2 separate regions of the Homo sapiens genome follow, and region 2 is linked to region 1. Evidence: fine-mapped expression QTL. A gene starts in region 1. The other region holds a variant in brackets. All regions are shown on one strand. Distances are between the middles of the regions. Region 1 holds the start of TRABD2A (TraB domain containing 2A). Region 2 overlaps TRABD2A (TraB domain containing 2A).

Region 1 (2,904 bases):
TTCTAAAGGAGAGAGATCTTATCCAGACTCACTCGTCATAATTACCAGTCGGTAATAGGTTTTGCAGAAGTGAAAGGCAATGTGCTTTCTTGTGAGGAGATGGACTCCTGCCTTGTCTAACAAGCATGAAGCGGCCACACCGCAACAGAGTTTGAAACCATGCCTGGTGCAGACTCCCCTCTCCAGCTGCCGCGCCTCCTGCCTTGGTAGAGGGCCGTCCGCAGCCCCGCGACGCCTTACAGAGGCGAACACCGTGCGTCTTCCCAGCCCGGAGCTCCAGGATCGGCTCTATTTGGCCGTCCTCTGCTTTGCTGCAGTTGGGATGAGGAATAAAATTGCGAATGGCCAGGGGTGGAGGCAGACCGGGGAGCTGCGCAGGTGTCATCAAAGGTGGGCCTCTAAATTCCAGCCCCCACTCCCTCAACCCACCCCCAACCCCCCCCACCCCCGCGTCGCGGGCGCACCAGAAGGATAAGCCTGGCATGGCCCTCTCCAGAGCCAGGGACGCACAGATATCAAACCCACCGGAACAAATGCGCGAAATTCAACCTATGCCGCACTCAGAAGAGAGGGACTCGAGAACCACAGAAAATTCTGAGTGTAGGAAAACTGATCAGAGAAGGAAATATTCATCTCGAAAGAGGTCCAGCCTCGGAGACGCAAGACCTGTCCGCTATAGAGCTGTGTTGACTCGGGCAGGTCACTGAGCCTCCCTTGCCTGGGTTTCCCTCACCCACAAAACGTTGATGCGAACATCTAAAGCGCCCGGCTGGACACGCAAGGCTCGGACAGTGGTCACTCCGCGAACGCACTCTGTGACCTGGAGCACACAGGTCCCCCGCTGAGTGTCAGTTTCCCAGATCGGTAAAAACAAGGGAAATGGCTTCAACTCCCTAAAGTCCCTTCTAACTCAGGCACTGAACATATGAAGGTTAAGCCAAGCAGCTTCAGGGCGCTGTTAATATTTTGATAAGAGCAGGTGAAATTAAACTCTTAAGGAAGAGAGGGAAGAAGAAACTTCAAATAAATGTGCCCAAGTTCCTGGTCCGGTACTCCCTGGCGGATCCGTCCCCCGAAAGCTCGCGAAAATGGCTGGCGAGACCCCAGAGGCTCTCTCGGACGCCCTTGGGCTGGCGGAGGGCAAAGGCCAGGGCACTGAGTCGCTTGGAGCCTGCGGGCTGCGCCCCCGCGGGAAAGGGGAACCCGAGGGCACGGAGAGGAGAGCGAGCAAGGAGCGCCGCGGTGCTAGGTGAAAGCCCAGCCGCGGAAGTCGGCTCGGGGTCCGAAAGCGCTGCTTCGCGGGGTTCGGAGGGAAACCATCCCAAGGAGGTGCAGAGAGGCCGGCTCTCCAGCACCCGACGCGCGCCTTACTTGGGGCTTGAGCTCGCAGTTGGCGGTGCCGGGCGCCCCGCGCCGCGAAGCTGCGCCCGTGGGCAGGAGGCAGAGGGTCTGCAGCAGGAACCAGCTCCAGGGACTCATCCTCCTCAAGGCGGCTCCGAGGCCCGGAACGCGGAGGGAAGGAGTAGGGCAGAGGTGGCCGCCCGCCCTGGCTAGCCGGGGCCGCGGGGCGCCTCCGGGCGGGGCTGGGGTGAGCCCGGCAGCAGCGGCCACGTGGGGCCGGGCCTCGACCTCCCTCCCCCCACCCCACCCCCGCAGGTCAGCCCCGCGCCTAGGCGGCAGCGGAGTCCCGAACCGCGTTTCTCCCGCCCAAACCCTGCCGGGGCCGCCGCCCACCTCGTGTGACCGCAAGAGGGGTAAAGTGAAGTTCCAGCGCTGTCCTAAATTCAACCTAAAATCGCATTGGTTCCTGCGTTTACGTCTGTGCTTATGCTGCCGATTGTGAGGGGAGGGTGCCTCTTGATTGAAAGAGGCAGACAAAATAAACAAATGAAAGGCTATCTATAAAGGAAAGTTCATTTAAACAAAGGAAATCTCACGGAAGTTTTGAATGTAAAAGAGAGAGGGGAATGGTCAGTGTGTGCATCCACTGAAAATCCAGGACCACAAAAGCTGGCACTCCATTAAGAGCCCTCTTAATGGATTTTTAGGAATAATATTAAGGATGTTAACACCGAACTCAGAGGATTGCCGCAAGGATTAAAAGAGGAAATTTATGAGAAACACCTTGATTGGCACACATAGCAAGCCTGCAAACTGCAGTCGCTCCCTTTCGGCTCCAAAACCCCACTGAGGATTTTTCACAGCATTGGTCCATCAGGAAGAAAAAAAAATTATGAAAGCAAGTAGCTGTGCCCCGCCTGCCGCACCTCCTACCCATGCCTGAGCGCACTTTACCACCACCTTTTAAAGTCCAGACGTCTGCGCCATTAACTTCGGAGTGGTGTTCGCAGGAGCATTTGTCGCAGTGGTCTTTAATTGCTTTAAGTCGCTGTCCATTTTGAGAATCTGATAACTGGACGATCTCCCAGGGAAAAAGAAAAGGGGGGGGGCAGATTTGCATACAATGCGGGGAGAGGTTTTCTGAAGCCCATTTCCAACTTTCCCGTAAAGAACCCCTGGCTTTGAAGAGCCAAGTCTTTCGAGATTTAACTCCACCAACATTTAGAGTTCAGATGTTTTTGTAAAATCGCTTTTTTCTAAGTTTGAGTGGGGATTTGCTTTCTGGAATTGACTGTCTCCTGTCTTCAGATGACTGCCCCGTGTCAGCCCGGCGGCAATCGTTAGTCTCCGGGCCAACCCAGGACGATGCTTTTTGGCGTTTTCAGGCACCAGCGCTGCCACCTGCTGGCAAAAACTTTCTCTTTCGGTTGTGAGGGGGAAAAGCAAAAAGCATCAAGAACGTAAGTTGCCCTGAGCTAAGATCGAACCACTGCACTCCAGCCTGGGCCACAAAGTGAGACCCTGTCTCTTATTTAAAATAAAACAAAACAAAACAAAACAAAA
Region 2 (2,904 bases), 26 kb before region 1:
GGTCCTTCAGAGAGAACACTGACTGGCCAATACCTCAATTTAAGATTTCCAGCCTTGATGGGTGCAGTGGCTTACGCCTATAATCCCAGCACTTTGGGAGGCCAAGGCACACAAGGTCAGGATTTCGAGACCAGCCTGGCCAATATGGTGAAACTCCATCTGTACTAAAAATACAAAAATTAGCTAGGCATGGTGGCGCACACCTGTGGTCCCAGCTTCTTGGGAGGCTGAGGCAGAAGAATCACTTGAACCTGGGAGGCAGAGGTTGCAGTGAGCAGAGATCGCCCCACTGCACTCCTGCCTGGGCACAGAGCGAGACTCCATCTCAAAAAATATTTATTTATTTATATTTCATATATTATATATAAATATATATTATTTATATTTGAAAAAATAAAAATAATACAATTTTTAAAAACAAAAATACAGTATAACAACTATTTACATTGCATTTACATTGTATTATGTATTGTAAGTAACGCAGAGATGACAAAGTATTTGGGAGGGTGTGCGTAGGTTATATCCAAATGCAACTTGCCATTTTATAGCAGGAACTTGAGCATCTTTGAATTTTGGTATCCAAGTGGGTCTTGGAACCAATCCCCCATGGATACTGAGGGACAACTGTACAGGCTAGATACGAGTAAGCCCAACCACTTACAGTGGATGGAGCAAAAGCAACAGCAAACTTACCAAAACATTATGCACTGGGCACTTTACAAAGGTTCTCTATTTATTCTTTACTACAAACTGACAATGTTTGTTTCATCATACCCCTTTTAGAAATAAGAAAACAGACTCAGAAAGGTTCAATATCTCACCCAAGGTCACAATACTAGGAAATGGGGGAGCCAGGATTCAAACCCAGATCCACGGTCTCCAAAGTTGATACTCTCCACTGAGAAACTGCACAGAATAACAGGGCAATAGGCAGGAAGACTGGCCTTGGTGCCTCCCAGGCCTCTAAAGCCAACCTCTCCTCAGGCAAGACCTGCCTGACTGCCCAGACCCATGCAACTCTAAGGCAAGGAGAGGCAATACACCTACTTCTCCTGAATGCCCTGTCCTGGTTATGACAGCACCACCAGGTAAGATGCACAGACAGCCTCAAATTCACCCTTCCTGTCCTGTTAACTAATGCCCCTTGCCCCCCCAGAGATCATGGTGTCAGGTCCACCTCTGGGGAAAAGCTCCACAAAACCATCCTTGGATTACAGACCTTTCTCTCCTACTGGGTGTACCAAAGGTGTCAAATCACTGTGCCCTTCCTCTACCAACCCCTACCCAAACCACAGCCTCTGAAGGGACAGCCCTATGTAGGACATGATTCCACGTGCCCCCTCCCTCCCCAAGCCATGCCAGTTACACCTGAGTGGACACCTGACT[C/T]GATGATATGGCACTGGCTGAATCATCAGCTTTACATTCAAAGAGTACATCTACCCCACAGAATGGACTTTAAAATCGTCCACAAGCAGAAAATGCTCATCTTTATAGGCCAAATACCAATTGCCTCATTTCAAATCTCTTTTAATTTGCATTCGTGTAGATTTCAAGAAGGGCAAGATACAGGAGACCACAAGAAAAGAACTATTGGAAATATTACAACTAAGATAAAACACCCCTGATATGGCATTTCCTACGGTGCAAAAACTAAAGGGACTTAATTTTCCCCTTGGAAAACACAGTAAGTAAGATACACAGATTGCTACTTTCACATTAGTGCTTGCCGAACATTATACTCCCTTTTTTTAAAAAAAAATGGTTATCAGTCTAACCATAATCATGGCTTATCATCAGCTGAATCCCCTTCTCCCTCCCTCCAATGACACATATTCACTCCACCTGCACTGCCTTCTGAACGTTGTGCTCACTGGAGAATACTTTACAGGCTTATCACCAGACAGTTTACTTCAGGGTTCAAATTCTACCCTTCCTTGCCCCCTAGCCCCCACGTCCCCCTTTCCACTCTCCCCTTGCCTCCCCACAGCCCTTCTTCTCTCTCCCTTTCTTTCTGGGCTGTGGAAAGAATCGATTAAGCTCCTGTCCACATTTGCAGCAGACCTTTTTCTCTTTCCTGAGACTTGTTCAGCTGTGGGGAGACCCAAGTCCCAGTTGGGGCATTGTTGCGTTAGCCCAGGGGTTGAGGGGGTGGGTGAGGGGGTTCGAGTCCGGCAGATGTCTTTTTTGTCAAAAACAAAGGCCCCCCAGCGAGTCTCTCCTCTTTCCAGCACTTTCATTCCCCTCAGATCAAAGACCTGCTCTGCATATGAAAGGCACCGCCCATTACGCGGCTCACAGTGGCCCGCACCACCCCACTAGCCTCCCCGCACTCAAACAAAGGGCCTCGCATCTGTTCAAGCGCAGGCCTCACCTTCTGGAGTGTGGAGTTGTTGTGTCTTCTTTTTATCTTAGTTCACTTTTGAGAGCCATTCAGTCCCTTGAAGTATAGTTAAGAAGAGTAGGGGAAGGGTCTCCCTTGCCCTCAGACCATTCACCCAGATAATTTTTTAAGACATCTTGAGGGTGTCTGGTCCTTGCCTCCCCACCTCACCTAGGTCTCCGTGCAGTGGGGAGGTCCTTCTCAGGCTCATTTTCTACCTTCGCAGCCACTCTTCCAAATACCTCCTCCCTTACCTGAAAAGGGACTATTCCCTTGGAAGAGTCTAGACTGGCCCCTCAAACCAAGGAGGTGATGAAAGTCCTGCTCCTTCTTGTCATGTGAATGGATGCTGCCAGACTCGGGAGCTAAAGCTTCCACACACTTCTTTGGATGTCTAGGTCTGCTTTTTGGCAGAGGCAGCAGGGAAGCGCTTCTCAAAACTTGAACCTGAGTTCTCAACAAAAGGACTCAAGCATAAGGACGAGATAAACTGATCTTCAGTGACATTTTAATCTGAAGAAGTG

What was found. PIP is the estimated chance that this variant, and not a neighbour inherited with it, causes the effect.
Region 2: its variant is the best candidate, but not a certain one, in a credible set for the expression of TRABD2A in whole blood (TOPMed, PIP 0.52).

Annotation. Positions count from the first base shown.
Region 1 is chr2:84,879,561-84,882,464 of GRCh38, forward strand. It overlaps TRABD2A (TraB domain containing 2A), which reads right to left and starts at 1,524. Exons shown (of 7, transcript NM_001277053.2): 1 at 1,372-1,524. The coding sequence starts at 1,479. RefSeq lists enhancers at 766-1,268, 1,269-1,769 and a silencer at 1,499-1,628.
Region 2 is chr2:84,853,692-84,856,595 of GRCh38, forward strand. The region is part of intron 2 of TRABD2A (TraB domain containing 2A); the gene reads right to left. Among named protein-coding and RNA genes, the nearest start is that of TRABD2A, 26 kb to the right of the region's middle. The variant C/T (reference allele first, on the strand shown) is at 1,387.